Linked DNA regions of Homo sapiens. The protein of the gene in region 1 interacts with the protein of each later gene in a pairwise test. Each region holds a gene or a part of one and is shown in the gene's direction. Other genes may lie near its edges.

Region 1 (6,008 bases):
AAGCTTTTGTACTGCCCCTTACTGCATGGCATATTTATTTATTCTTTACTTTGTACTGAGAATGTTGCTCTTTGATACCCCAGTGGTGGGATCAGAACTCACTGCAGCCTCAAACTCCTGCTGGGCTCAAGTGATCCTCCCACCTCAGCCTCCTGAGGAGCTGAGATGACAGGCGTGCACCACCATGCCTGGCTAATTTTTTTAAACTTTTTTTTTTTTTAATAGCCTCGCTATATCACCCAGGCTGGTCTCAAACTCCTGGCTTCAAGTGATCCTCCCACCTTGGCCTCCCGAGAAACCCCAGTTTTGAATGGAGATCTCTATTAGACCTCTCATTTTAGGGTTTTTCATTTTTAGAGATACGTAAAACTATGGTGTATCTTAGAATTGATGGCATCTTAGGGTTCTGTGATATAATAGTTTGTGGCAGGCCAGGTGTGGTGACTGAAGCCTGTAGACCCAGCTACTCAGGAGGCCGAGGGGGAAGAATCACTTGAGCACAGGAGCTTGAGCTGATCATAGCTGCAGTGAGCTGTGATTGCACCACTGTACTCCAGCATGAACAGCAGAGTGAGACCCCATCTTTTTTTATTGTTGTTGAGATGAAGTCTCACTCCATCACCCAGGCTGGAGTGCAGTGGCACAATCTTGGCTCACCGTAACCTCTGCCTCTGAGCTTCAAGCGATTCTCCTGCCTCTGCCTCCCAAGTAGCTGGGATTACAGGCACCCGCCACCATGCCCGGCTAATTTTTGTATTTTTAGTAGAGATGGGGTTTCACCATGTTGGCCAGGCTGGTCTCAAACTCCTGACCTCAAGTGATCCACCCACCTCAGCCTCCCAAAGTGCTGAGATTACAGGCATGAGCCACCATGCCTGGCCTAGACCCCATCTCTTAAAGTTTGTGGCAGGGCTGCAGTACTCAAACCATAAAGAAGTGGCCTATGGAAATGAGCTTTAAGCCACATTCCATGAACCGAAGGGCCTCTGAGCTGGGAGTGGATAGTGGGCACAGCCAGCCCCAGCTCTCCCTCTCAGTTGAGCCAAAGCATCTGTGCTCATTTGTTTTTAGATTTCTTAAAGGATTTCATTTGAAAGAAAAAAGAAACAAGTCCATGAGACCACTGTCCTGTGAACGTGAACTACTTTCTATTTGGGTAGGTAGGAAGAAGTGAGGATAGTTGCAAAGTTATAATTTCATTCCCCTTCCCCACCCAGAAAAATAGAACTGAGAGTCTTAAAACATGGAATCTGGCTGTAGCTTGGCCACAGTTACCTATGTCTCTTTAGCATAGCCTCCTGGATCTCAGCTTTATCTCTAAGAAAATGATATAGATTAGTCACATGGTCCTTCTAATTGCCTGAAATCCCACTATAAATTTCTAGCACCTGTCACGCAATAGGTACTTAAGAAATGTTGGTGATGGTGTTTGAACTGAGGCTCCACTCTGATGAAACTGTAAAGCTCACCTTCCAGCCTGGTAGGTTGTCACCTGTGTAATATAAAGCTGGTTCTTTGAGGGCAAAAGGGGATTCTACTTGAATGTAGCTGCAGCCTTATGTACAGCAACTACCATAATGCAGTTTGTATACCGCAGGCCCCATGTGGAGACACATACTGGATGGGTTCTTTCTCGTATGTTACATGGGAATGCCGACAGCTGTGTTTTAATTGTGTTTGACCTATGTTTTCGTTGTAGGGAAGCAGAAATGAGAAACAGTATCTTAGCCCAAGTTCTGGATCAGTCGGCCCGGGCCAGGTGTAAGCATCTTTGATTTCATTTCCATAAAGTTAGCTTGAGTTAGTTGAATGGGGTGATTAGATACCATTATTGCTATCACTAGATGAAATATTTGCTTAGGCTGAAAACACTTGAGATGTGTAAGAAGTGTGAAGTTTATAAACCTAGAGAACTGTACTTTAATCCCTAGTAAAAGTACCAGGTCACTTCTCTTACCAAGATGTTCTCCAGGTGTGTATTAGGTAAGATTTATAGGAAACAACTCATAGGGCCAATCACAAAATGTTGCTGGTAGTTGACATTTTGTGTCAACTGGTGATGGGGACTGGGGATGGGGGACTTAGGGGCTTTTTATATGTATTGTCAGTTTTAGTGTATGTTCAGAGTTGTTCATCATAAAAACCAAAACCTGTAGAAAGAAAAAATGAGACAGTCAGAATGAACTGGTATTTTCTGTATTTTAACTGGAAGCCCAGTTTGAGTGTAGAAAAGGCGGCCACAGGTGGATCACCACCATTATGTGTAATAGATAAACCGCTTTCCAGAGGGCAGTCATATATTTTAAGAAACAGGAAGCATGGTGCTTAGAATCTGAGAACCCAACTTTAATCTTGGCTGGGCCACTACCCCCATGTGCCCATGTGGAGATTGGCATGGGTGAACTTCAGTTTTCTCATTTTTAAGAGGAGTAACAATACTGTCTTGCCCTACACTGAGGGACAAGCTTGTGAAGTGCTTTGGAAAGGTCAATGCATAGTTTTAAGGTATAACATAAGTGCATTTGATTTTAATGGATTTTTTGCATATGTATTTTTTCTTTTTAGTAAGTAACTTAGCACTTGTAAAGCCTGAAAAAACTAAAGCAGTAGAGAATTACCTTATACAGATGGCAAGATATGGACAACTAAGTGAGAAGGTAAGCTTAGACAGCCTTGAGGAACTTTACTGTTACCTGCTTTATCAAAACATGGCTTCAAAAGGTCAGCTGCATCTTCACTGGATTACAGAATTCTTGCTGACTCTCAGAAGAAATTGTTGGAGAGAATAGTCATACCTACTTTAAAAGAGAATAAATTGCCTTTCCTAAATTCCTCTGCTTCGCTCCTTTCCTGGCGTTGCTCTGGAACCTTGTTGGTGTCTGTGACCCAATGACTGTTAGGGTCAGCTAGCTTCAATTGCCCCTGCACTGGAAGCAAGGTTTGTCAGTAACACCAATTAAAATACTACCAGTGTAAGTAGAAGGTGTGTTTTGCAGATGAGAAGGTGCTAAGATGCCTTGCTTATGTTCTCTGTGTTGCTGTAATACCATGAGGGGTATGTTGTGGCAAACCTGGCCTTTGAGATCAAGACGAACCCCACCTGCCCTGAGAAGCCGTCTGCTACCACCACAGCCTACCCGAATTGGTCCTGTCCCCTAAACCCCTCACACTGAGAACTGCTTGTGTGGGAGAGAGCTGGTTGGGTTGATCTTTTCCGAGTGTGACTTACCTCCTTCAAGGGGATGTTTAAGCTTCTCGGGCAGAAGTGGTGTGTCTATTCCTGACACCAAACACCGTGGTATATGTGGTTGTCACACTCAGCTAGTGATGATAAAGGTGTTCTTAAATATGTTAGCTTTCAGTTTTCCTGAGGAAGCAATTTTATGGATACTTCCCCCTCCTTCTCAAGTGAGGAATAGCAGAGCAAATTTTATTTGGAACTTAAACCAATAGTTATAACCAATAGTTTCAACCTCCTGCCTCACCACTGCTTCCTTCCTGAGCTCTTTCCCCACACCTCAAAAAGAGTACAAAGTGATTCCATCTGCAGAGGTAAATTCTTTGTTTAAAAAAGTACTGTTTTTCTTATCTTTTCTGGTTCTCCTAGGTATCAGAACAAGGTTTAATAGAAATCCTTAAAAAAGTAAGCCAACAAACAGAAAAGACAACAACAGTGAAAGTAAGTGTCCCCAGATGCTTGTGGCAAATGAAAAGATGGATACTTTAAAGATTAATGTTGAGTATACATCTACCACACATATTTTTCAGCCCAGAGACATTTTCCTTTTGTCAAACACGTGAAAGTTTGGGGAGAAAGGCTGAATCTGTTGGGGGAGGGTTCTAATTTTTATAGGCTCTTGACTCCATTCCCACCCTTTTAGTTCACGCTAAGTTGCTTTAAAGACACAAATGTCTTGCTAAAATTGGTAGAAATCTTTTCTCGGAAAATCTGAGTTATGCTTTATTAGAAATGTTCTGACACTCATTTAATTTTCCTCCCAGTTCAACAGAAGAAAAGTAATGGACTCTGATGAAGATGACGATTATTGAACTACAAGTGCTCACAGACTAGAACTTAACGGAACAAGTCTAGGACAGAAGTTAAGATCTGATTATTTACTTTGTTTATTGTCTATATGCCTTTTAAAAAAATAAACTTGTTATGCAAAATAAAACATTTGGGTAAGTTGTTTTAGTATCATAGCCAAGTGGCCAGATCTGTGTTTTGAATTTTTCCCCTTCCTACCAAAAGCTTTTTTTATTTTTATTTTTGTTATTATACTTTAAGTTTTAGGGTACATGTGCACAATGTGCAGGTTAGTTACATATGTATACATGTGCCATGCTGGTGCGCTGCACCCACTAACTTGTCATCTAGCATTAGGTATATCTCCCAATGCTATCCCTCCCCCCTCCCCCCACCCCACAAGAGTCCCCAGAGTGTGATGTTCCCCTTCCTGTGTCCATGTGTTCTCATTGTTCAGTTCCCACCTATGAGTGAGAATATGCGGTGTTTGGTTTTTTGTTCTTGCGATAGTTTACTGAGAATGATGATTTCCAATTTCATCCATGTCCCTACAAAGGACATGAACTCATCATTTTTTATGGCTGCATAGTATTCCATGGTGTATATGTGCCACATTTTCTTAATCCAGTCTATCATTGTGGGACATTTGGGTTGGTTCCAAGTCTTCGCTATTGTGAATAGTGCCGCAATAAACATACATGTGCATGTGTCTATATAGCAGCATGATTTATAGTCCTTTGGGTATATACCCAGTAATGGGATGGCTGGGTCAAATGGTATTTCTAGTTCTAGATCCCTGAGGAATTGCCACACTGACTTCCACAATGGTCGAACTAGTTTACAGTCCCACCAACAGTGTAATAGTGTTCCTATTTCTCCACATCCTCTCCAGCACCTGTTGTTTCCTGACTTTTTAATGATTGCTATTCTAACCGGTGTGAGATGATATCTCATTGTGGTTTTGATTTGCATTTCTCTGATGGCCAGTGATGGTCAGCATTTTTTCATGTGTTTTTTGGCTGCATAAATGTCTTCTTTTGAGAAGTGTCTGTTCATGTCCTTCGCCCACTTTTTGATGGGGTTGTTTGTTTTTTTCTTGTAAATTTGTTGGAGTTCACTGTAGATTGTGGATATTAGCCCTTTGTCAGATGAGTAGGTTGTGAAAATTTTCTCCCATTTTGTGGGTTGCCCGTTCACTCTGATGGTAGTTTCTTTTGCTGTGCAGAAGCTCTTTAGTTTAATTAGATCCCATTTGTCAATTTTGGCTTTTGTTGCCATTGCTTTTGGTGTTTTAGACATGAAGTCCTTGCCCATGCCTATGTCCTGAATGGTAATGCCTAGGTTTTCTTCTAGGATTTTTATGGTTTTAGGTCTAACGTTTAAGTCTTTAATCCATCTTGAATTGATTTTTGTATAAGGTGTAAGGAAGGGATCCAGTTTCAGCTTTTTACATATGGCTAGCCAGTTTTCCCAGCACCATTTATTAAATAGGGAATCCTTTCCCCATTGCTTGTTTTTCTCAGGTTTGTCAAAGATCAAATAGTTGTAGATATGCGTCATTATTTCTGAGGGCTCTGTTCTGTTCCATTGATCTATATCTCTGTTTTGGTACCAGTACCATGCTGTTTTGGTTACTGTAGCCTTGTAGTATAGTTTGAAGTCAGGTAGCGTGATGCCTCCAGCTTTGTTCTTTTGGCTTAGGATTGACTTGGCGATGCAGGCTCTTTTTTGGTTCCATATGAATTTTGAAGTAGTTTTTTCCAATTCTGTGAAGAAAGTCATTGGTAGCTTGATGGGGATGGCATTGAATCTATAAATTACCTTGGGCAGTATGGCCATTTTCACAATATTGATTCTTCCTACCCATGAGCATGGAATGTTCTTCCATTTCTTTGTATCCTCTTTTATTTCATTGAGCAGTGGTTTGTAGTTCTCCTTGAAGAGGTCCTTCACGTCCCTTGTAAGGTGGATTCCTAGGTAT
Region 2 (5,744 bases), on another chromosome or scaffold:
TTTCTTGTCCTCTATTTTCAAGTTGATTTATCTTGGAAAGTTAAAAACAGTCAACTTAGGCCTAAGAAATTGGTTTTAGTTGGTAGTAGCTTTGGTGGAAAAGTTTCTGTGGAGAAGACATAGTAAGAGGGTAGCAGTGACGGCAGCACGGGCATTGCAGATGCCCTTGGGCTTGACTCTTGAAAATCGGGTGAGAATTTACTACTTTAGAAAATGTTTGTGAGAATTAAATGTGCAGAACTCACTGTCCGGCACATTATGAGTCCTTAACAATGTTAGTTTTCTTCCAGACAAGATTCACATTAAAAACCAAGATAAGTTTTGGAGATTGTTTTAAAATATATTTTAACATCATCTTTATTTGGGTGTAATTTACATACAATAAAATACATCCATTTTAAGTGCACATTAAGGTATAAAAGTGTTCATGAATTTTGACAAATGTGTATGCTGTGTTACTACTGCAATTAAGATACTGAACATTTTCATTATCTGATAAATTTCTCCCCATCTCAGTCAGTATGACCTCAGCTAGCCATCTGTAGTCTATTTCTGGACTCTTCTATTCCATTGATCTTAGAAACTTAGTAGTTTTTCACCAAAACTACTGCCCACTAAAACCAATTGTTTAGGCCTAAGTTTACTGTTGCTTTAGCTTTCCAAGATAAATCAACTTGAAAATAGAGAACAGGAAAGAGCATGAACCTAAATAATCTGTAAACTGTTTGTCTAACTCCTGAACAATGATAGGATAACCCCTATTGCAGTAAATACCTCAAGGTACAATATTTTAAAATGCTTATATGCTAGACTCATATATGTCTATCCTTGTGCCAGTACCACACTATCTTGATTACTGTGGCTTTGTAGTAAGTCTTGAAGTCAGGCATTGTAAGTCCTCCAACTTTTTTTTCTTCGTTTTTTTTAGGATCGTTGCATTTTAAATGCATTTCCATGTATAACTTAAAATCAGGTTGTCAATTTCTACCAAAAGCCTGCTGGGATGTTCACTGGAATTGTATTGAATCTAGAGATCAATTTGGGAGAATTGACATCTTAACAATGCCGAGTCTTCAGTGTATGAATATGATACACTTCTCTATCTTTATTTCTCTCAACAGTGTTGTTTGATTTTCATTGCACAGACCTTGCACAAAGAAATATAACTTATATTGACCTTTCGTCTTCTGACTGCAGTAAATTCACTTTAATTCCAGCATCTTTTTTGTTGATTCCTTAGAAATTTTTGCATACACAATCATGTCATTTGTGGATAAAGACAGTTTTACTCATTCCTTTCTGATCTATATGCCTTTATGTTTCTTTTTGTTACACAGGCTGGTACCTCAACTACAGTGTTGAAAGTGGTGTGGAGGGACATCCTGTCCTTACTCTTAATTTTTTGGGGAAAGCATTCAGTCTTTTACCATTAAGTATGATGTTAGCTGTAAGTTTTTTTTATATTCTTAATATGTTTTCATAAACCTACCAAGTTGAGGCACTTCTCTACCCCTGGTTAGGCGAGAGGATTTTTTTTTTTAAATCATGAATGGGTGTTGAATTTTGTCAAGTATTTTCTGCAGTTATGGAGATGCTCATATGATTTTCTTCCTTTATTTTGTGACATAGCTAATAACGTTGTTTTTGTTTTGTTTTGTTTGGGAGACAGGGCCTCACTCCCTCACAGTGGCTTTGTTACAGACTGGCTTTGTACTGTAGTCCCCCCTTATCTGTGATTTCAGTTACCTGTGGTCAACTGCATTCTGAAAATACTAAATGGGAAATTCTGGAAATAAATAATTCATAAGTTTTAAATTGCACTCTGTTCTAAGTAAAGCACTGATGAAATCTTGTGCCGTCCTGCCCAGGATGGGAATCATCCCTTTGTCAAGTGTGTTGATGTTACATATGCTATCTACCGTTAATCGTTTAGTGACCATCCTGGTTACCAGATTGACTGTTGCAGCATGGCAGTAATTGTCACTGTGTTGCAGAACACAGTAATTGTGTCAAGTAGCGCTTATTTTACTTAATAGTAGCCCCAAAGCACAAGAGTAATGATGCTGGCAATTCGGATATGACAAAGAGAAACCATAAAATGCTTCCTTTAAGTGAAAAGGTGAAAGTTCTTAACAAGGAAAGGAAAGAAAATTGTATGCTGAGGTTGCTAAGATCTACAGTACCATCTACAGTACAGCACAAGATATTTTGAGAGAAAGACCACATTTACATAACTTTTGTTATAGTATATTGTTTTAATTCTATGTTATTGTTATTGTTCCTAATCTCTTACTGTGTCTTATTAATAAATTAAACTTTATCATAGGTAAGTATGTATAGGAAAAAACATAGTATAAATAGGATTCAGTACTACCTGTGGTTTTAGGCATCCACTGCGCTTTATGGAATGTCTCGCCTGTGTATAAGGGGGCACTACCATATAGAGAAAGATCTTTACTAGTCAGCTTGACTGCAGATTCTAGGGGCTTCGTAAGCCTTTTCTGTGGATGTGTCTTCCCTGGACTTGTGATTATAAATTTCCAAGCCGAGAGATTTGGTCAGTTTTTTCATTAGCTGCTGTTTTTCTCTCTCATGTGTCTGTCCATGGTATTGCAGGTTCTCCAGAGTTGCTGTAAGCCATCAGCCTCTTTTTTTGTTTTCAGCTGCCCTCAAGCATCTAAAGTATGCTGATCCAAAGCACCCCAAGTTGAGTGAGACAGAAACCATTCCCTTAGGCAGTCCTTTGAAAAGTTCAAATGTTGGTCACACACTCCACTATTCTCTCCCAGCCTCCCCTCCCAAGATAAGCCGCAGAGCTATATCAGCCTCTGTCTGCTCTATGGGTCCTGTGGATCAGTAGCAAGCAACCCAGCTTTTTTTTATTCTTAGCAGTCCCCAGTCACCTAGAACATGCAGGGTTCATGCTTAGTGGGGTGAGACAGAAGCCAGTCCTCTGGCCAGCTCTTGGAAAAGCTAGAACATTGGACCGTGTTTCCCTTCTTTCTCTCCCCAGGCAGAAAGTTGGGGGTTTCTCTTCCTTGCTGAGCCTGGGGGAGGCACACTGGCCAGTGAGTGTGGTACTAGTCCAGACCTTTGCTTTTGTTCTCAGTGGCCCTCAACCTGGTTCCCTTTTCTGTCAGTGTATAGATTCAGGCAGCTCAGAAACCAGTTTCTCAAGTAGCCCCCGCAATGTAAGTGCTAGTCTTCTGTTTCTCTCCCTAGGGATACATGTTGTTTGCTCACTTCTTCATGACTTATAGCTGTCACTTATGCCATTCTTTAAGAGGAAGTCAGTGGAGGGAAGTTTCAGTAATGATGATTTTTTATTTTATGAGCACTTTTTTTTCACTTGTGAAGTCTCAGTATTCAGTAGGCCTCTTCTACTAAACACCAGTTGTCACAAGTCCCGTCATGTCTAAAATTTGCTCTGGGTCTTTAGTGTTTTAATGACACAAAACCCCCAGGGCTGTAGTGGAAGCCAGGTCTGTCATGTTCTGGTATCATCTTGGATTGACTAGAATTGGTGATCCAGAATCCTAGGTATTTATTGTTGCTTCTTAGATTTTTCATGATTTATCATTTTTAAATCACTTTATTTTGTTTTGTTCTGTTTAGGTTTTTGGATATGAGTAATAAACACTACATTTGTAGTTCTGCAGGTACAAAGGTGTGAGTGGGGTGCCTTGGCAGAATGCAGGTCAATTAAATTGATCCAAATTTGTGCTATTAAAGAGTATTTTGGGGGCGAGAGGGAGCAGACTTACTCCAACCCATAAAACACCATTAAGTGAGAAATGGTCTTGCTAATAGACTAATATGCCCAAGTGCCAATTTTCTTTGCACTTGCTATAATTTTTCTCACTTCATAATGGAAGATGATCAAAATATTTAGCAATTGGCTGGCTTTCAAACATCAAAAGAGTCTAGCATCTTAATAGTAAAAAGGAAATTTCTAAAACTTAAATGAATCCTTGTCATGTGAAATCTTAAGGACTTTATGAAAGAAGGAACTTTTTAGAAAGAAACATCTAAAGTGTCCAGTTAAAAGCAAAAACCAGTGTGAAAAGAACAGGAGGTCCAAGAAAGCTGAAAAGGTTGGCATCTGCCTCCAGTTCTAATGTTAAGGGACAGTTAGTTGGTAAGAGAATAACATCCCTCCAACTAAAGACTAGCATTTCAGAATTTCCAGAAGTGCAGCTCTGCATAATTATATCTCCCTTTTGTGTGTGTAGCTATTTCTCTTCTCCTCTGCCTTGTTTCACAGTGCTACTTCATGAGAATATAAAAGAAGATAAACACGTTTATTATTTGCCTAATAGAATCTTATGTTGTCTCTTGAATTAGCAAAGGTTTCGTAAGGGGAACATTTCATATTTCAGTTTGTTTTAAAAAATGAAATAAAATTGCTTTTTACTTCTACACAAGCTTTGATTAATTTTTTTTGAGTCAAAATCCACAAAAGGAAAAAAAAAAAAGATTGCTGGCCAAGCTTTAAAATAGTGGTAATTTATCAGTGTCCACAAGCCAATTATTTTATCTAGGATCTTGCTTGGGATTAGAGATGCCCCCTCTCCCAAGGCTTGGATATTTCTGTGAAACTACTCTTTAATTCATTGTTGTTATTGTACCTTCCTCCACTCTGCCCACACATCTTTTTTGGGCTCTCTTGGATGGAAAGACAAATTTCATAGGTGATTTAAATGAAGCCCTCTGGGAATACATGAATTCAAAACTCTTCAGCTGTTCTTCTTTGAATGGAAGGGTTGTCATAGTTGCCCACTAGAGAATAAATTATGCTGGTCTGCAGCTTACCAGTACATATTTGGTAGTAGTCTAGTAGAGTGAAATTAAGCCTAGGGCTTGATCTACTTAGGACTCCATATCTGGTTCTCCTCATTTCAAAAGAAAAGAAGAGGAAAGATATACAAGATTATGCAGAAGAGAAAGCAGTAGCCTTATTATAAATACTAATTTAAAAGGTACATGTGACCTTATTAATTAAATGTTATTTATTGATGTATACATAATATATATAATGTATACTTATATAGGTACAATTACATATATAATAATGTATACACTATATTGTATAAGTATACATTATATAACTATACATAGTACATATTTATATAAGTATACATTATAGTATAAATGTACAGTATATATTTATTATAAACAAATGTTTATAGATATAGTCAGTCCCTGACTTACCATGATTTGACTTAGGATTTTTCAACTTTACGATGGTGTGAAAGCGATACACATTCAGTAGAAACCATACTTTGAATTTTGAATTTTGATCTTTTCCCAGGCTAGAGATAGGTATATTAAATACATTTTGGCTTATGATATTTTCAATTTATGATGGGTTTATCGGGATGTAATCCCATGTTAAGTCAAGGAGCATCTGTAATTTTTAATAATTAATATATTAAGAGTCTGGACTCTGGTGCTTTCCTTTGCCACATATTAGTTCCATTATCTTTGGCAAGTTGGCTGAGCCCTGTGCTTCATTTTTCTTCTTGTCAAATGTGACTAACATTGGTACCAACCTCAGGGTTGCTGTGAGGATCGAAAGAGTTAATACATGTAAAGTGCTTAGAACAGAGCACATACTAAGTGCAGTGTTTATTTGAACCACATGAAATTGCCAATATTTGTCCATTTTTGACTTAACCAAAAATGTCAGTTTCATATAATTCAACTTAATAGTGACAACTTATTAATTTTTTAAAAATTGTTGC
Region 3 (5,744 bases), on another chromosome or scaffold:
ACCAACGTGGCAAAACATCGTCTCTACTAAAAAATATTAAAAAATTAGCTGGACGTGGTGGCTTATGCCTGTAATCCCAGCTACTCAAGAGGCTGAGGCACCAGAATCGCTTGAACCCAGGAGGCGGAGGTTGCAGTAAGCCAAGGTTGGGCCACTGTACTCCAACCTGGGCAACAGAGTGAGACTCTGTCTCAAAAATAAAAAATAAAAATAAAGGCTATGGGCCGGGCGTGGTGGCTCACGCCTGTAATCCCAGCACTTTGGGAGGCTGAGGTGGGTGGATCACAAGGTCAGGAGATCGAGACCATCCTGGCTAACACGGTGAAACCCCGTCTCTACTAAAAATATAAAAAATTAGCTGGGCACGGTGGCGGGCGCCTATAGTCCCAGCTACTTGGGAGGCTGAGGCAGGAGAATGGCATGAACCTGGGAGGCGGAGCTTGCAGTGAACCAAGATCGTGCCACTGCACTCCAGCCTGGGCGACAGAGCGAGACTCTGTCTCAAAAAAAAAAAAAAAAAAAGGCTATGAAACAATGGTGAAGACACCTGTTGGATCTAATTTAACTTAGGGTGTACAAACTGATTTTATTAAAATTTCAAAAAAATTGAATTTTAAGCTTTTAACAGGGGAGGCAAATCTTGTTATCTGATGAGAAATGTGTTTGGGGAAGAGCTGGTCTGTCTCCACTGCTGCCTCCTCTCTCTCACCTTCTTCCCCTACTGCCCTACTGAAACTTCTCTCAAAAGGCATTAGTGAGGGGCCTCCGAATTGCCAAATCCCAAGCCCTCTTAGTCTTTAGCATATTTGACACCATTGGCACATTTCATTCTAAAAATCTCTCCCCTCTAGCTTCTGTGATATACTCTGGGTATTTTCTCTCTCTGGCTTTCCTTAGTCCTTTTTATTCTTGCTCTGTAAATTCCATGACTTTTTTTTTTTTTTTTTTTTGAGACGGAGTCTTGCTCTGTCGCCCAGGCTGGAGTGCAGTGGTGCAATCTCGGCTCACTGCAAGCTCCACCTCCCGGGTTCACGCCATTCTCCTGCCTCAGCCTCCCAAGTAGCTGGGACTACAGGTGCCCGCCACCACGCCCAGCTAATTTTTTGTATTTTTTAGTAGAGACGGGGTTTCACCGTGTTAGCCAGGATGGTCTCGATCTCCTGACCTCGTGATCCGCCCACCTCGGCCTCCCAGAATGCTGGGATTACAGGAGTGAAAATTTCATAACTTTCGACTATCACTCTCAACCCCTTCTTTGAAGCTCCAGTCTCATATTCCATGTGACTAGCAGGGATCACCTGGGTCCCCCATATGCACCTTAAACTTAGTCCAGTCCAAAGTAAGCTTCGCATTTCCTTTCCCCAGACTTCCAAAACCTATACCACCCCCTTCATTCTGCAACTCAGTTAACAGCATAACTCCCTACCCCAGTCACTTAGGTTGGAAACCTCAGTCATTTGATTCCTTCTTGACCCCTTCACTGTCTCCCTCTCCGCCAGCTTATACAGGGGGCTAGACCTGCAAATTCTGTCTCTGTAATAGCCCTTATGCTCCTATTTTCTCTTCATTTTCATTTTCACTGCCCTAATCGAGGCCCTCATTGAACCTTTCCTTTGGAACTTTACATATATCCTCTACACAATCAGCAGGATTTTCTTGCTGAAACACAGTTGATCATTGCTCTCCTGCTTAAAATCCTTCAAAGGCTGTTCACTTACAGAATAAAATAAAATTACGTAGCATTTTAGCTATGCTGGACAACACGTTGTTCTATTACATACCACTCCTTTCCCTGTGTCTGTGTTTTTTGCTTATGCTCATCTGTTTGGATTTTTTTTCCTCCTGACAGAATTGTACTTAGGCCTCAAAGCCTAATTCAAAAGGTCACTTCCTTCCCTAAGCCTAACCTACCTCCCAATAATATTTAATGGTAATTTCCTCTGTGATTACCCCTATAGAATAACGTAGCAGTTATGTTATTTAAGGGTAACATAAAGGGTATTTAACCCATTATGTTATGCTGTTTGTGTTGTATATGTCTCTGCTCTCAAAGGCTGTGAGCTCTATGAGGACAGGAACTATCTTAATCAATTGTGTATTCCTAGCACCCCATACAAGTGCCTGGAATATAGCTACAATCAATAAATGTTTGTAAATTGAATTGAATTGAAGGGACATTACAACATTGTAGTATAAATCACTTTGTAGCCTGAGATTGATCACTACTGCAAATACTAAAAGTGGAAGAACATATACCTTTACTATTCAGTAGAATAGTTTTATGGTTAAATCAATAGCATCGTGTAACATGTGATGATGTGCGTTTATGCATTTATCCAAATATTTGTAAGTTTAATACTGACCACGATGTATATGGCTATTGAAGAAAACCACACATAATATGTGTGTGAGGTTTGAAACTAGCTCTGTTGCCTAGGGCTGTCTTTGTGCCTTGCCAGAATGTGGACCGTGGCATGATCGGCCTGAATATTTAGCCATCCTCATGATAGCATGTGGAATAACTGGTTTACAGTTCATTCGTTTCATACATACTCTGCCTAGCATGTAAAATTAACTGGAAACTGAGGAATTGGAGCCAAAGTTAGAAAATGAGGAGAGTTCAACTTGAACCATCAGGAAACAGGCTGATTACATGAAGGTCTTTTTGTTTGTTTGTTTTTAACATAATAAATAGAGATGGGGTTTCACCATGTTGCCCAGGCTGGTCTCAAACTTGTGGGCTCAAGCAATCCTCCTGCCTCAGCCTCCCGAAGTGCTGGGATTACAGGCCTGAGCCACCATGCCCATCCTATATTTTTTTTCAGGCAATATCCTTTTGTGCTCAAGAAATTAAGACACACACCCCACCACAAACTACATTTGAAGACTCTGCCAAAAAAATGCCATGTTTTTTCTCATTTTCTTTCATCAGTAATTAATGATACCAAGAACACTTATATGCATGGTTTATAGCAGTTGGCTATGGTCAAAAAAAGTTGGGCTTCCCCTCTGAGACATTTGCAGATATATGTCCTAGGTATACCATCAGTGGCAAATAATGCTTATCTTAAGATCTAATCTCACAGGGCATGCTGGGCTCACGCCTGTAATCCCAGCACTTTGGGAGGCCAAGGCAGGAGGATGGCTTGAGGCCAGGAGTTTAAGACCAACCTGGGCAACATGGCAGGACCCTGTCTCTACAAAAAATAAAAAAAGTTAGCCAGGCATGGTGGCTTACACTTGTGGTCCCAGCTGCGCAGGAGGCTGAGGCAGAAGGATCACTTGAGCACTAGAGGTGGAGGTTGCAGTGAGCTGAGATTGGAGTGCCAGTGGACTCCAGCCTGGGTGACAGAGCAAGACTCTGTCTCAGAAAACAAAAAAAAAAAAAAAAAAAACTAACCGCCCCTTCCCTCTAGAAATATTCTAAAAGAAGGCTTATGATATGAATTTGAGATTCCTAACTATAAAGTAATAGTTATGTGCTTCAAATGATACATAACAATACAGGGACTCAAGGGCAATGTGCCTAGATTCTTAAGAGAATGGAAATCAGTTTAACATATATTGGTAATCTGGGCCGGCGCGGTGGCTCACGCCTGTAATCCCAGCACTTTGGGAGGCCGAGGCGGGCGGATCACGAGGTCAGGAGATCGAGACCATCCCGGCTAACACGGTGAAACCCTGTCTCTACTAAAAATACAAAAAATTAGCTGGGCGTGGTGGCAGGCATCTGTAGTCCCAGCTACTCGGGAGGCTGGGGCAGGAGAATGGCGTGAACTCAGGAGGCGGAGCTTGCAGTGAGCCGAGATCACGCCACTGCACTTCAGCCTGGGCGACAGAGCAAGACTCCATCTCAAAGAAAAAAGAAAAAAAAAAACATATATTGGTAACCTGAACACAGTGATCCCCCTCAGCAGTATTAGAGAGTAGCCTCAGCGTCTCCCTGCTGAAGTTGTCTTATATAAGAATCAAATAAGGCTTTATTTATACTTCTGACAACAAGACTGGAACCCCCTTCTCTTGCTGTAACAGCCAATCCTATCCACTTATGATTCCAATTATAGTGTCATAAGTTAGAGAATCATAGGAATGTAAAGAGAGAAAGCTGTAAGAGCATGGCTTAAGACTCAGAATGTTTTGTTGCTTCTTTAAGGCAAGAACTCCCCTGGAGCAGGAAATTTTCAACCTCCTCCATAAGAACAAGCAGCCAGTGACAGACCCTTTACTGACCCCTGTGGAAAAGGCCTCTCTCCGAGCCATGAGCCTAGAAGAGGTAAGTGTGTCATAGGCCCTTCAGCACACCCAGGCATGCCACGCTTCTCCTAGCATTTGTCCTCTGGCCCAGGTGTCACTGTAAGTCTCATTTGTTGTAGGCAAAGATGCGACGAGCAGAGCTTCAGAGGGCTCGGGCTCTGCAGTCCTACTATGAGGCCAAGGCTCGAAGAGAGAAGAAAATCAAAAGTAAAAAGTAAGGAGGCCCCTGTGAACTGGCCTTGGGTTCCACAGAAGAAAGTCATGTGGTTCATCATGAATTCTTTGGAGAGAACCTTTGATGCAGCAACTAGAGTCATGCAGATGAGGTCCCAAACAGGAGTGACTAGCCTTTTGTTCCCCCCAAACCAACCTCATACAGTTTTGCCAAAAAGATGACTATTCAGTTACTTTCTCTGCCTTCCAAGGCATCACAGAGTGGTTCTGCAGAATCAGCTCTGAATTCCAGAGCTGTTAAGGCCAATAGGGCTTCCTTCCTGCCTTTTTGCCTCTTTGAAACTTGTTCGGCCGGGTGTGGTGGCTATGCTTGTAATCCCAGCACTTTGGGAGGCCGAGGTGGATGGACCACTTGAGCTCAGGAGTTCAAGACCAGCCTGGGCAACATGGCAAAACTGGCTGGGCACGGTGGCTCACACCTGTAATCCCAGCACTTTGGGAGGCTCAGGCAGGTGGATCACTTGAGGTAAGGAATTCAAGACCAGCCTGGCCAACATGGCGAAACCCCATCTCTACTAAAAGTACAAAAATTAGCCAGGCATGGTAATGTGCACCTATAGTCCCAGCTACTTAGGAGGCTGAGGCGGGAGGATCGCTTGAGCCCAGCGGGTGGAGGCTGCAGTGAGCCAAGATCATGTCACTGCACTCCAGCCTGAGTGACAGAGTGAGACCCTGTCTAAAAAAAAAAATGAAACTTGTTCTACCCCTCCCTTGAGTTATAGAGGCAAAGGAGACTCTTTGAGCTGCAGAGGTCCACCCTGAGGACTGTGGGTACCAAGAATCTTGCCAGTCCTGTCAGGTCCCAAACTGACTCCCTATAGCCAACTAGCTCTATGATGCCCATTCCAGCCCCCTGCCTAGGGAACCCATTGGGTAGTATGGGCACTTGTGCCTATGACATCCGTGCTTCAGCTAAATTGCTAAACTCTTCCCTCCTACCCCTACAGGTATCACAAAGTCGTGAAGAAAGGAAAGGCCAAGAAAGCCCTAAAAGAGTTTGAGCAGCTGCGGAAGGTTAATCCAGCTGCAGCACTAGAAGAACTGGAAAAAATTGAAAAGGCCAGAATGATGGTGAGACTACCTCTTGCCCCACCCCCACCCCTTTGAACCAGCTTTCCTTGGAAGGCACTAAAGATGTAAATCTCACTCTGTCCTTTCTTTCTAGGAAAGAATGAGCCTTAAGCACCAAAACAGTGGGAAATGGGCCAAGTCAAAGGCAATTATGGCCAAATATGACCTGGAGGTAAGAGACCCTT
Region 4 (2,745 bases), on another chromosome or scaffold:
AGAAATAATAGGTATTTGTTAGACCTGAGTGTACATTTCACATGTTATCCTTCACATATTTCTCATTTTCATCTAGTACTTTCTTAATGCCTTTGTTGGAGTCCGCATCCTCATCTTTAAAAAAAAAAAAAAAAAAACAGCTTAGCCTAAGCCACATTCACTTTTTTTAGTTCACAAAAAGGATTTAATAGCCACAATGTGATTTTTGCCACAACTGTGTGATTTTAATATTCTCTAATATCAAGGGCGGATTTAGAATTGCAGGAAATACCTGGAGAAATCACAGTGGAATGAATTTTTGCTTTAAGAGAAATGAGAGTTGGCTGTCTCTGTAATTGATAATACAGCTTCATCCTAGTCCCATCTGCATTTCAGAAAATAACCCTCATCTTTACAAAACACAGGACACTTGTGGGACAGTTAACTCAAGCAGCTATGGGGAGGGAGGAGATTATTGAATGGTGATTAAATAATGCAAATGGCTCTTCTGTTTCTTAAAGACTGTGGAAGAGGTCAGACTGCCCAGTTGAGGTGGGCAGTTCATACTGCTCAGTTGAGGTGGCAGTCATTTATTCTGAGTCCTGTTGGATAGAGCCTATCTCCTCAAGGCTACAGAGGCTTCCAGGATATGGAGCTGTGCATGTTAATGGCTCAGCCTTGCCTCCATCAGGGCACCTGCCTAACTTGGAGCAAGTGGGAGAGCACCCTAGAGTCATCCTCTGTGCTGTTTCGTGAGTTTTGCAGCGGAGACTTCACCATCCGGAGGAGCTGTGTTTCTGTGTCACTTGGGATATCACCTAAAAATGAAACATTTGATATTTTAAGGTATAAAAAAAAAGTAAATTGGGGAACATTGGCTGCAGTCCCTAAAAGATACTGTTGTCTGTGCATCAGGTTAGCTTGAGGTCACCACAGGTCCTGGGAGCCCAGAGAGTTTAGGCATACTCTCCTTTGGAGGCCAGCAGCCTTTCACAAACCCTGCCTCTAAAAGGGCGGTTTCACATTTGACCATGTTTTTGCATTAGCCTCAGAAACTCTTGTCTTTAGCTGATAACCTTTGAGGGATGTGAGAAGCCTAGTTGGAGCATCTGAGAAAATGATACCTCTCACCTTCAAATTAATCAAATAGTTTGTCCTTCTAGTCCCCTTATAAATTAATAAATGGAGGGCTGGTCATGGTGGCTCACGCCTGTAATCCCAGCACTTTGGGAGGCCGAGGCGGGTGGATCACAAGGTCAGGAGTTCAAGACCAGCCTGACCAATATGGTGAAACCCCATCTCTACTAAAAATACAAAAATTAGCCAGGTGTAGTGGCACGCTCCTGTAGTCCCAGCTACTCGGGAGGCTGAGGCAGGAGAATCGCTTGAACCCAGGAGGTGGATGTTGCAGTGAGCCGAGATCCCGCCACTGCACTGCAGCCTAGGCGACAGAGCAAGACTCCGTCTCAAAAAAAAAAAAAAAAAAAAGAAAAGGGAAGGGAATCCCATTTTGTGATGATTTGGGCACACTACTTGAGCTGAGGCTAGCAGTCACATGATTTTGGCTGTCTCTGACCTGAAGCTTTTGAAGTAAGGTTATGTCTCTTCCCTGAAGCTTTGTTTATAGTGGTAATTTGGTGAGTTTGAGCTTTGAGCTTGTCTTAGAAAATAAGACTGTCCACCTGGGGAGGGGAGCTTATAGGGAACCCGTGTTAACTCAGAATGCTGAAGAAAGTGCTTTTAGCCAACAAAAGTAAGATTACTATCTAGAAGGTGGAAAGAAGTCATTGCTTCTGTTCCTCCAGCAGTCAGTTGACTCTAGGTTTCCTTTGGTTTATATCCCCAGTTCTTAATACTAAAACTTATTTGACTTCCTATCAGGAAGCACACAAAAAAAGCGTCATTTAAAACCCTGGATATAGGCTTTAAAGGATACAAAAACAGCAGCATTGTCGTTTTGCCAGGTTCATCACCATTTTGATGTGCTACCCATCCTTCCACCCTCCCTTTCCTGCCCCCAAGCCTCCCAGCCAGGCCAGATGTGAAGATTCTATTAATCACTGTTTCAGAGAACATTAATTCTTGTATAGAATAATTATCTACTAAATTGCTTATTATCTGTGACTACCTTGCAGAGAACATCTCAACAGTGCAGTAAAATAGCTCTCCTAGACTTGAGCTTCCAGCCAGGCATTTAGATCACTCTTAAGCCTTTGTGGAATTCTGAGGAAAAAAAGCAAGATGCCTCAATGCCAATGCTGGGCCATAAGATTCTACTCCCCTCCCTGTAGGGTGGGGCGCGTGGCTCAGCTTTGGAAAATCATTTTGCCAGTAATATTGCCTGTGAATCCCTTTAAGAAGTCGTCCTGATCTGAGCCTGTCTTTCTGAGCACTTTGGTGCTGAATTGAAAATGGTAAGCTAAAGCAGTGACAGATCCACGTAGCCTCTTTAACCTCTTTATTATCTTGCCAAAAAAAAAGTTTCTCAGGTTAAACCTTTGTCTTTAACCTCCCTTTGTTGTGGAGAAAATGTGTCACTAATCAGTGGTCCAAGGGATATCTAGCTTTGGTTACTCAGTTCCTGCAGCATAACAGATATGACTTATGCCAGGGAAGGTAGAGGCTGATTATGGAGACACCCAGGAACAGGAATAAGAAGGGATAGGTCTGCTCCACGTAGAACCTCCCCAGATCGGAAGTTAAGTCTTGGAGAGTTTCCAAAGTGCTGAAGTAAAAAGGAGACTTGGAGGGCCTTTGCTTAATGAG
Region 5 (5,744 bases), on another chromosome or scaffold:
GAAGACTGTTCCAATCTTTGATTATCCTCAAATCTTTCCATATTTTTGCTCTTACTTTTAGCAGATGATGTCATGTGATTTTTCATAAAGAAAATAAAACCCATTAAATGAGAATTACCTCAGCCTCCTAACCCCAAAGTTGTATGCTTACCTGAAAATGCACATAATCTCTCCTCCAGTGTTGCAATGGAAGGAGATAGGTCTCCAGCTCTCTTTAAGGTTGAGTCCCTCCACCTGTCTCTCTGGTTTCCATTTCCTGCCTCCTTCTCATTGTGTATCCCTTTTGTTCCTTTATTACCAGTTTCTTCCCTGAACTGGCTCACTTGAGTATTTACATATGTTCTGGTTAATCTAACCTTAAACAAAGAAAAAGGAAAGATCCCTTCTTTGATTCCATTTATTCCTGTAGCTTCCTGCCAGTCGTTCTCTTCCCCTTGACAGTCAAAGTTTAAAAAGAGTTGTCTACTTGCTTCATACCCACTCCTCAGCAACTTCTTTCCCCTACCACACTGCTCTTATTAAAGCCATCAGTGATCTTCACAGCACTGTTTTCAGTGTACATTTTTAATCCTTATCCTATTTGGCATCTCAGAAACTTTTAGTATAATTGCCCAATTTTCTTAAAATCCTCTGTTCCTTTGGCTTAACATTGCATCAGAAGCAATGGTTTTCTTCCTACGACTCTAAGAATAATGGAAGGCCACTGCAATGTTTTAAGCAGGGAAAGATCAGTTTTAGTGTGCTGAGTAAATTGAAAGGTAGAAGATATGATTGGAGAAAAAAATCAGTCATGAAGCTATTGTAGTATTCTAAGCCAGAGATGATGTTTGCTTGGAGTAGAGTGGTAACAGTTGATTTGGAGAGAATTGAACAGATGAAAGGAAATTTAGGAGACAATATCAACAGGATTTTGTGATCACTGAATATAAGGAATAAGAAAGGAGGATTTATCTATTCTGACTTAAGGCACCTAAGGTAGATGAGATGCTATTTAGCAAAGAAAACCCTGCAGAAGATGGAACTTGGGGGGATTAGGATGGGCAGAGATCTGCTGGCCATGTTGAATTTTAGGAACGTTTGAGATTCTGAATGAAAATGTTAAAAGGGAATTTGGATGTATAAGCCTAAATTTCAAAGAAGCCACAGATAGAAATATTGAAATTGTTCATGCGTAAGTGATAATTTAATTGAAGTTATGCATTGAGAAGAAAGCATCTAACAAAAGAGTACAGAATAGGAAGAGAAGGATTCTTTCTAAGCTTTGGTAAACTCCCAACATTTGAAAGTTGATTCAAAAGTATGAGTTGGCAAAGAAGACTGAGGAGCCACTACAGAGGCTACTGTTACTCTTTTGATTTTTAAAAATCAATTAAAATATAAGAATGCACAGAAACAGAGTGGGCCAGATTAGGCCCAGAGGCTACAGCTTACTGACCCTTTTTTCCTGATGAGCCTGGTGCTTAACTTAAAACAGACACTTGGTAAATTTTTGTGTAATGACTTAATATTGAATATGTTCTTATCCAGGTCAAATGTGCTTTTCTTGTGGTGCAGGGAGGTAATAAAGGTAGATTTTTCCTCTTAAAACCCTGAAAGCAAGAATTCATCCTTTTCTTTGGGTTTATTCTCTTTAGAAGTTAACTTTTAATTTATTAAAAGTCAGTGTGTGACCAGCCTGGACAACATAGCAAAACTTTGCCTCTATAAAAAATACAAAAATTAGCCGGGTTTGGTGGCGTGCATCTGTGGTCTCAGCTACTTGAGAAGCTGAGGTAGAAGGATAGCTTGAGCCCAGGAGGTGGAGATTGCAGTGAGCCAAGATTGTACACCTACACTCCAGTCTGGATGACAGAGCCGGGCCCTGTCTCAACAGCAACAATAACAAAATGTCAATGTAATATTTTGACCCACTCTCACGTGTCCAAAAGACTTTTAAATTTTTGTAAGGATATAATAATGTTATTCGGGCTGCAGAAAGGTAAACCAAATTTCTACGGATACATAGAATTTTGGGTATTGATTTTTATTAATACCTGAGAGTTTTAAAAACATACCTTTATGCTTTTGAGAATCCTAATTATTATCGTTATTATTTGCCCTTGAACTTTTGTATTTATTTGATCTTAGTTATCTAAGACCATGCTAGGTCTATGGTATATGGATGCTGCACTCATATTGGTAGAATATAATATGAGAGACAGTCTATAGACAAACATATTAATATATGATGACAATCTATGATATATACCATGAAGGAAGCTAACAAGCATAATGTTATGGATTAATTATGAAGGAAAGACAAGGATAAAGTGGTCAGAAAATGTATCTCTTGAGAAATATCATTTATGCCAAGACTTGAGCTATGTGAAGAGTTGAGTTGGGTGAGGCGTACCTAGGTAGAGTGATAGTATGTGTGACATGAAAGCTCAATATTTCCCAGGAGCTGAAAAATGTTTTAGATATAAATAAGGTAAGGTATTTACATTCAAGTAATCTCCAAATAACTAATTATGCAAACAGAGATTAGTATATATTGATTTTTCTTAAGATTAGACAGTCTATACTAAGAAATAATTCAAGGCATGGGGGTCAGAATTGATTCAGTTAAAAAAAATTGATTTCCAGTCTGTTCCACATTGATTGAAAACCATTCAGCTGAAATTGCAGTGGTATTATATGTATGGGTTGATAGGTGATTGACAATTGACTAATATAAATAATTGCTATACCAGAGACTATGTAGCACTAAACCTCAAATGTGCTGAAACAGTAATCAGAAGAAAATGATTCCTATGTAAACAGTTCAGTGAAATCTATAGCACAAAAATGTGGCAAACTAAGGTAACACCATGAGAGATAGCTTAGGCAAAAGAAGAATGGCTGGCAGAACTTGTGAGTTATTGAAGGAAGAAGACAGAACAGATTGAGGGGGAAAAGAGAGAAATGGAATAAGAGTAAGGGGAGAGGGAATGAGAATCTTCAGTTAGAGTAGAGGAGGAGGACAAGAGGAAGGAATTCAGGGAAAGGGGGAAGGGAGGATGCTAATATTTTAAGAGGAGCTTACTTTAGTAGTATAATTTTATATAGGGCAAAACCTTAGAAATGTCTACTTTTAGTCTTAGGAATAAATGTTATTATCTCATACCCATTGCCTAATCATATAAGCAGTTGACTATATCATTATCTCTTCTACTTCAAAATATTTGTTTTGCAGTCTTTCACTTTAAAAACTCAAAATGGAAAATTATATACTTTATTTTAATATTTACAAATATTTACAAATATTTATTTTTAAATAAAATGTATATACCATGTAGTATGTTGTATTTATTTACTCAATGTTCTTTTAAGTGTTTCAGGCTGCATGTACCAAGTAGTTCAGACGATTGGCTCGGATGGAAAAAATCTTCTGCAATTACTTCCAATTCCTAAGTCTTCTGGAAATCTTATACCACTAGTTCAATCTTCAGTCATGTCTGATGCTTTGAAAGGGAATACAGGAAAACCAGTTCAAGTTACTTTTCAGACTCAGATTTCCAGCTCTTCCACAAGTGCATCAGTTCAATTGCCCATTTTTCAGCCAGCCAGTTCTTCAAACTATTTTCTTACAAGAACAGTAGATACATCAGAAAAAGGTAGAGTTACTTCTGTGGGAACTGGAAATTTTTCTTCATCAGTTTCTAAAGTTCAGAGTCATGGTGTGAAAATTGATGGACTCACCATGCAAACATTTGCTGTTCCTCCCTCAACACAAAAAGACTCATCTTTTATTGTAGTTAATACCCAGAGTCTTCCAGTGACTGTGAAGTCTCCAGTTTTGCCTTCTGGGCATCATTTACAGATTCCAGCCCATGCTGAAGTGAAATCTGTACCAGCGTCATCATTGCCTCCTTCAGTGCAGCAAAAGATACTTGCAACTGCCACCACCAGTACCTCAGGAATGGTTGAGGCCTCCCAAATGCCAACCGTTATTTATGTATCTCCTGTAAATACAGTGAAAAATGTAGTTACCAAGAACTTTCAAAACATTTACCCAAAACCTGTTACAGAAATAGCAAAGCCAGTAATACTAAATACCACACAAATTCCAAAGAATGTTGCTACAGAGACACAATTGAAAGGTGGTCAGCATTCTCAAGCTGCTCCAGTGAAATGGATTTTCCAAGATAATCTACAGCCTTTTACGCCATCTCTTGTTCCTGTTAAGTCTTCAAATAATGTGGCTTCAAAGATTTTAAAAACTTTTGTAGATAGGAAAAATTTGGGAGATAATACTATAAATATGCCACCATTGAGTACCATCGATCCTAGTGGGACGCGATCCAAAAATATGCCTATTAAAGATAATGCTTTGGTTATGTTTAATGGGAAAGTCTATCTGTTGGCTAAAAAGGGGACAGATGTTCTGCCATCACAAATTGACCAACAGAATTCTGTTTCTCCTGATACTCCAGTAAGAAAAGACACGTTACAGACAGTGAGTTCAAGTCCAGTCACAGAAATATCCAGAGAGGTTGTAAATATTGTTTTGGCTAAAAGTAAATCTTCCCAGATGGAGACAAAATCACTTTCCAATACCCAGCTTGCTTCCATGGCCAATCTAAGGGCAGAGAAGAATAAAGTGGAGAAACCATCTCCTTCTACCACAAATCCACATATGAACCAATCCAGTAACTACTTAAAACAGAGTAAGACTTTATTCACAAATCCAATCTTTCCAGTTGGATTTAGTACAGGACACAATGCCCCCAGAAAAGTAACAGCCGTCATTTATGCTAGAAAAGGAAGTGTCCTCCAGAGCATAGAGAAAATAAGTTCCTCTGTTGATGCAACAACTGTTACTTCACAACAGTGTGTTTTCAGAGACCAAGAACCAAAGGTAATTTTCCCATGTCAGGGTGCTCTTTTTATATATCTATATAGAAAAGTTTGTTTTCTTAATTCTCAAAGTTATCTATGATACCTCTTTCCCCCACTGCCAACCCCATCACACACAGACTATACACATATGAGTATTTAAGTCAAAACTTCCATCTGAGCAAATTTGAGGAGGAGTACAGTTGGGTACAATCTTGTACAAAGGAGTACAGTCTTTCTCTTGAATCACTTGGCATGCCAAATCTTTAAAACAAAAAATTCACAGAGCAAAAAGGTTTAGAAGAGTTGGGGAAGGATAATGTGAATTCAAAGCTTAGTAAAAATATGTGAGTATATGTATATACATACATGTATATATGTATGTTCATATATAATAGCCTTTTTAGTATATGAGGAGATCAATATGCATGTAAAAGAGTTGGTTTTGGGGTTTTGTGGGGTTTTTTTGTGGTGGTGGTGGTGGTATACCATGGAAAAGGTGAGACAGGGCTAATCAATACCTTTCAGTAATTTGTGGAAATAAGATTTTATCAGCATCTTTGATGGGTTGATTTTTTTTTTGGTAGACAAATTTCATTTTCCTTTTTATTAGCTCTTTGTGACTCCTCAGCCAGTTACCCAACATGCCCACATAGTTACCTTTATGTTCGACTTAAGGTTTGTCTGTCTGTGTGCTTACTAGATATTTGTACCCATCTTTTCCTTGCTTACTTAGAGGTCTACTCAATAATGTCAGCATTTCTCCCCTTCAGTACAGAATTCATTGAACTCCAGAGATGTAAGGAGGTAAATTCTGATTGTTCAATACAAGATCGATTAAAGGCATGTGTGACTTTTCCAGAAGACTACAATTTCTAAATAATGTC
Region 6 (5,521 bases), on another chromosome or scaffold:
GCCAGCACACACAGCTAATTTTTGTATTTTCAGTAGAGACAGGGTTTTACCATGTTGGCCAGGCAGGTCTCGAACTCCCGACTTCGTGATCCGCCTGCCTCGGCCTCCCAAAGTGCTGGGATTACAGGCGTTAGCCACTGTGCCCAGCCTGAAACCTGAATTTTTAATGATATTGTAAAACTGCACATTTTCAAAGTGGGAATTTTACCTTTTAGAGTAGAAAGGTACTGATGAACATAATGTAAGGGTTGAGGTAAATAATCTATAAAGTCCTCTGCAATCTTAAACTCATTACCTGGGAGAATGATGTCAGGATGTGTTGAATATGCCACTATTTGACATGTCAGCCTAGTTTGTAGCTGCAGTGTTTTGGCATGTGTTTGCATGCTTGTTTCTTCTTTCTGATTTCCAGGAGAAGAGAGAAGATAGAACCAGCAGCTGCAGAGACAAGAGATAATTCCAGCAGAATCCGTCTAAGAAGACCTTTCATGTACTTCCCTAGGACTAGATGCATACCGTTTTGTGAAAACCAGCCATAGGAAAACATGTGAGCAACAACCCCCATGAACATTTGTCCTAACTCAGATTTTGTGAGCAGTGAAGTTTAACAGAGCAGTGACATTTAACAAAGCAGTGAAGTTTAACAGAGTTCTGAGAATACCATGAAAGACATTATGCCTGCCTAAACAAAAAGCAGGACATAACCTAGCTCTGAATACATGCCACAAGGATGAAGCTTGTGAGTAGAGCAAACAAACGTTTTTCCAAAGAATTCACAGTGCTCCTTTGCAATTTATAGATTTCATGTTGAAATATATGTTAAATAAAATTTCTGTTTATTGAACCTCTTTATTAAACCTCTAACTTACTGATAAGATGTTTATGAAGTATGGCATATTTTGATTTTTTTAATTGTAATAAATATTCTTAAAGTTACCACATCCCACAAAATGGCCCTTGGTGGCAGCAATAGAGCAAAGGTTACCTTTTTGTATGGTGAAGGGAGGCCTTCCTATGGCTGTACAATTACATCGATTCTTCCAAATTTCATATTTCATACATGGCACTTTGGCATACCGAAAAAACATGAAATTTTTCATTAAAATGCCATGAATCAAGCCAGGGCCGTTGGCTTATGCCTGTAATCCCAGCACTTTGCAGGCCGAGGTAGACAGATGGCTTGAGCTCAGGAGTTCGTGACCAGCCTGGGCAACCCTGTCTCTACAAAAAATACAAAAATTAACCAGGCATGGTGGCATGCACCTGTAGTCCCAGCTACTTGGGGTGCTGAGGCGGGAGGATTACTTGAGCCCAGGAGGATTACTTCAACCTGGGAGGTTGAGGCTGCAGTGAGCTGTGTTTCGCCACTGCACACCAGCCTGGGTGACAGTGTGAGACCCAGCCTCAAAAAAAAAAAAAAAAAAGTGATGAATCAAAATTAGAAATTAAGAGTTTTAAGAAAACATGTGGCCTTTTATTAATAACACTACTAAATTTTGGTTCCTCCATAGAATTAGTTTTGAAACACTTGATGTAGTGAGAAATGCATTAACATGTTGAATGCCTACCATGTACCAAATTTTGTGCATATATTTTTTATTTAATCTGACCAGCCACCCAAACCATGGGTATTTTTGTCTCCACTTTAGAGATGAGAAACTGAGCCAAGGCCACATAGCTACCTACAGTGACAGAATCAAAATTCAAACTCAGGTTTATCTAGTTCCAAAACCCATGTTCTTTCTGCCACACCATGTTAGTAGAAATGGAAACTATTGGATGAAATGAGGAAAAACAGGAAAAGAATTCACTTTTTAAATGAAGAAATTAGTGAAAAAATTGACCTAATGAAGGAAACATTTGTGCTTTCCTATATTTTTAATTTTAAGAATAGGATTTCGGAAGGCGACAGAAAATTTAGTTCTTAGACATTTAAATAGAAAGTTGTGTGCCCCTATAGAAAATATTTGAGAATTTCTTATACTATCAAGAAAAAATTCTGTGAATTAAGATGTAATTTATAAAATAACATTTCAATGGGGGTAAACAGGCCAGAAGAGTGTGCCAAGTTGTTTGTGAATCATTCCAAGCACCTCAGATGAAAACTCACTTTTATTAAAAAAAAAAAAGACAAGGGTTTATATTCATATACACTAGTATATATGTACACAGCAGCATCCTGCATGCCAAAGTAGCTTCACCGTTAGTAATCCCTCACTTTAATACCTCTTAGGAACCAAAGAATGCCTCTACAAGCAAAAAGATAGTTGAAAATAGTTAAGATCCAAAGTCAGAATAGGCCAAAAAAAAAAAAAAAAAAAGCCTAAATAGTAAGCTGGTGAAACAAGATAAGATTTGCATTTTACTAGAACTTGCACATTATGATATTGTCCTTTTATGAAACTGTCATATGACCAGAATTCTTCTGTAATTCTGCCCATGACTCCTCCAGAATTTTAGTAGATACAGGGTGGGTTCATTAAGAGTGATAAAAGTGGGAAGACATAAAGAGCCTTTGTGAATTAAAGTGGAAGAGAATAACACTTTGCATGCTATAAACGTGAAAACTAACATTTTTGGCCAGACACAGTGGCTCATGCATGTAATTCTAGCACTTTGGAGGCCAAGGCAGGAGGACTGCTTGAGCCCAGGAGTTTGAGACCAGCCTGGGCAATGTAGCAAGACCCCATCTCTATATAAAATATAAAAATGTTGGCTGTGCACGGTAGCTTATGCCTGTAATCTCAGCACTTTGGGAGGCCAAGGCAGGCAGATCATGAGGTCAAGAGATCAAGACCATCCTGGCCAACATGGTGAAACCCTGTCTCTACTAAAAATACAAAAATAGCTGGGCATGGTGGCACGCACCTCTACTCCCAGCTACTAGGAGGCTGAGGCAGGAGAATCGTTTGAACCCAGGAGGTAGAGGTTGCAGTGAGCTGAGATTGCACCACTGCACCAGCCTGGCAACAGAGCAAGACTCCGTCTCACAAAAATGAATAAATAAAATAAAAATAAAAATGTTACTTTTTAAAAAGTAACTTTTTTAATAATATAAGAAAGAAAAATGCCCTTTCACACTGAATCTTCAAGTTCTAAGGAAGAAAAGAGTCTCCTTTCGAATGTGAAGAAGTAAATTTAGAGGAAATCAAACAAGCATCACTTTCCTCAGTGGAAAAACTTATGAAACTTCTTATAAGAGAGAGTAATCTCAGGCCGGACATGCTGGCTCATACCTGTAATCCCAGAACTTTGGGAGGCCGAGGCAGGTGGATCATTTGAGCTCAGGAATTCAAGACCAGCCTGGGTAATATGGCAAGAGCCCAACTCTACTAAAAATACAAAAAGAAAAGAAAACAGCCAAGCTTGGTGGTATGTGCCTGTGGTCCCAGCTACTGGGGAGGCTGAGGTGGGAGGATCGTTTGAGCCTGGGAGGCAGAGGTTGCAGTGATCAGGAATTGTGCCACTGCACTCCAACCTGAGTGACAGAGCAACACTCTGTCTTAAAAGAAAAAAAAAAAAGAGAGAGATAGTAATCTCTTGGGCAAAAGGTATCAAATAATTGAAAGAAAAGTTTAAACACATTTCCGAGAGGCAGGGCAACTAATAACTGGTCAGAAAAATTTAGACGGTCTTCATTTTAAAATTGGCATCAGGAAGGATTACCATGAACTTATTTTAAATCCATATTGTACCAGAATGACTATGTCTGTGTTTCTTAGGAATGTTGAAGCTTTTTGTGAAAACTGTACTGTATACATATATAAATATACACACACTTACATGTATGTATTTTGATAGATATTACATGGACTAAATTTTGTCAATTTCATGTAATTTACCCTTTGCAATAAAAATGATTCATTAAATATATAACTAAATGTGATTTGGTTTTTATAACTGTAAATTTTTAATATAAAAATTCCCAAAATGTTTGTTTGTATTTTCTTTGACATTGAGAAACCTGACACTCATTAGCCACAATACAGGCACTAATTTAACTCTAGTATACATGAAAATTTGCTTCAGAATTGCTAATCCACATACCTAGGAGAAACAGATTTCTAACTAAAGTACAGCATTTTTATCATTCTTTTCATCCCCAATCTTACTTATTCAGTCAACACACTGTTTTCCAAAGTCACTAAAGCCAGTTCCTTCTTCTCTACCCCCTTCACTGTGGTGGGTTTTTGTTTTGTTTTTTAAGAGTTGGGGGTCTCACTTTATCACCCAGGCTGGAGTGCAGTGGCATACTCATAGCTCACTGCAGCCTCGAACTCCTGGGCTCAAGAGATCCTCCTACCTCAGTCTCCCCAGTATCTGGGACTAAAGGCATGCATGGCAATGCCTAGCTTTTTTTCTTTTTCTTTTCTTTTTTTTTTTTTTTTTTTTTTTTTGTTTGGAGATAGGATCTCACTGTGTTGCCCAGGCTACACTGGAACCCTGGCCTCAAACCACCTTCCCATCTCAGCCTCCTGAGTCGCTAGGATTGCAGGAGTGATAGTTTACCAAGTGAATAATTTTAATACAGTTTAGATTCATTTGTCACAATCTGTATCCCATGTTGGATTCTTCCAACATCCTGGATGTTTTTCCTATTTGCATACAGTAAATTCACTCTTTGTAGAATTGTGTAGGTGTTGACATATGCATAGCATTGTATACCCATCACTACTGTACCATGCAGAACAGCCCTATCATGCCAAAAATTCCTTCATACAGCCCTGAGCAACCACTGATCTGGATTTTGTTTCTATTATTTTGCCTTTCCCAGAAAGGGGGAATATTAGAATAAAACTTTTGGTGCTGGATTGATGTCGGAGATATATAGAGAATTCTTACAATTTTATGTTGCTCAGCATCCATTTTGAATACAAGTTTAACTTTCTCATACCAAAGCAGGGCTCAGTCATCTTTGGCACAATTTCCAGTTCTACATTACACCCAGATGGCTCAAGCTGGTGGCCAGTGACAAGAACTTAGAGGGATCTCTCCTGCCTTGCGGACTGCACTCCCTGCTTTCCTGCCTCTCTTTAAATGGACCATTTAGACATTTGCCTATTAAAGTGGCCCACACTCCATTCCCTTAGACATGCTGCTAGACACACTTTCTCTCTGGCTCTTCCTTTCTGCCTCATATGACCTGGGGACAGAGGACTGCCCTCCTGACTCATTATGCCCTCCTTGCCCAGGATCTGTAAGTGAAAATCTTTGAACTTATTTCCTATTGTGGTGATGTACTGAATTTGTGCTTTCCATCTGAAGAACCAGGGGACACCAGGGAGAGCACAAGGTTGAACTCCCAGTGCCAAAGTGATGGTCAGGCAGGCATAAACTGGACATGGATCAGACAAGAGCCACAAGGGCATCTGCCAGTATAAACAAGTTTCCCATGTGAGGGACCCCCAGTCAGGTCAGGCAACTAGGACTTAGGCCATCCTCCAGGTAAAAGAAGTATCCCATGAAAGGCACACTGTAAACACCCACATCCATCTCCCCTTCATATCCTGTTGGGGTAGGG

What was found.
Region 2: the proteins of PDCD5 (region 1) and RAD18 interact in binary tests that used the Homo sapiens proteins (3 or more experiments, as listed by UniProt).
Region 3: the proteins of PDCD5 (region 1) and UTP14A interact in a two-hybrid assay, tested with the Homo sapiens proteins (one large-scale study listed by BioGRID and IntAct).
Region 4: the proteins of PDCD5 (region 1) and NUDT3 interact in a two-hybrid assay, tested with the Homo sapiens proteins (one large-scale study listed by BioGRID and IntAct).
Region 5: the proteins of PDCD5 (region 1) and LRIF1 interact in a two-hybrid assay, tested with the Homo sapiens proteins (one large-scale study listed by BioGRID).
Region 6: the proteins of PDCD5 (region 1) and CEP126 interact in a two-hybrid assay, tested with the Homo sapiens proteins (one large-scale study listed by BioGRID and IntAct).

The regions. Positions count from the first base shown.
Region 1 is NC_000019.10:32,583,251-32,589,258, forward strand, and holds the end of PDCD5 (programmed cell death protein 5), read left to right. Parts: intron 1-1,699; coding exon 1,700-1,761; intron 1,762-2,565; coding exon 2,566-2,657; coding exon of another isoform or gene 2,658-2,789; exon of another isoform or gene 2,790-3,607; coding exon 3,608-3,679; intron 3,680-4,002; coding exon 4,003-4,050; 3' UTR 4,051-4,203; downstream 4,204-6,008. UniProt on the Homo sapiens protein: May function in the process of apoptosis.
Region 2 is NC_000003.12:8,952,547-8,958,290, reverse strand, and holds part of RAD18 (E3 ubiquitin-protein ligase RAD18), read left to right. Parts: intron 1-5,744. UniProt on the Homo sapiens protein: E3 ubiquitin-protein ligase involved in postreplication repair of UV-damaged DNA. Postreplication repair functions in gap-filling of a daughter strand on replication of damaged DNA.
Region 3 is NC_000023.11:129,915,022-129,920,765, forward strand, and holds part of UTP14A (U3 small nucleolar RNA-associated protein 14 homolog A), read left to right. Parts: intron 1-4,153; coding exon 4,154-4,273; intron 4,274-4,373; coding exon 4,374-4,468; intron 4,469-5,435; coding exon 5,436-5,559; intron 5,560-5,653; coding exon 5,654-5,731; intron 5,732-5,744. UniProt on the Homo sapiens protein: May be required for ribosome biogenesis.
Region 4 is NC_000006.12:34,281,925-34,284,669, reverse strand, and holds part of NUDT3 (diphosphoinositol polyphosphate phosphohydrolase 1), read left to right. Parts: 3' UTR 1-2,745. UniProt on the Homo sapiens protein: Cleaves a beta-phosphate from the diphosphate groups in PP-InsP5 (diphosphoinositol pentakisphosphate) and [PP]2-InsP4 (bisdiphosphoinositol tetrakisphosphate), suggesting that it may play a role in signal transduction.
Region 5 is NC_000001.11:110,950,423-110,956,166, reverse strand, and holds part of LRIF1 (ligand-dependent nuclear receptor-interacting factor 1), read left to right. Parts: intron 1-3,351; coding exon 3,352-4,879; intron 4,880-5,744. UniProt on the Homo sapiens protein: Together with SMCHD1, involved in chromosome X inactivation in females by promoting the compaction of heterochromatin.
Region 6 is NC_000011.10:101,997,187-102,002,707, forward strand, and holds the end of CEP126 (centrosomal protein of 126 kDa), read left to right. Parts: intron 1-412; coding exon 413-457; 3' UTR 458-3,876; downstream 3,877-5,521. UniProt on the Homo sapiens protein: Participates in cytokinesis. Necessary for microtubules and mitotic spindle organization. Involved in primary cilium formation.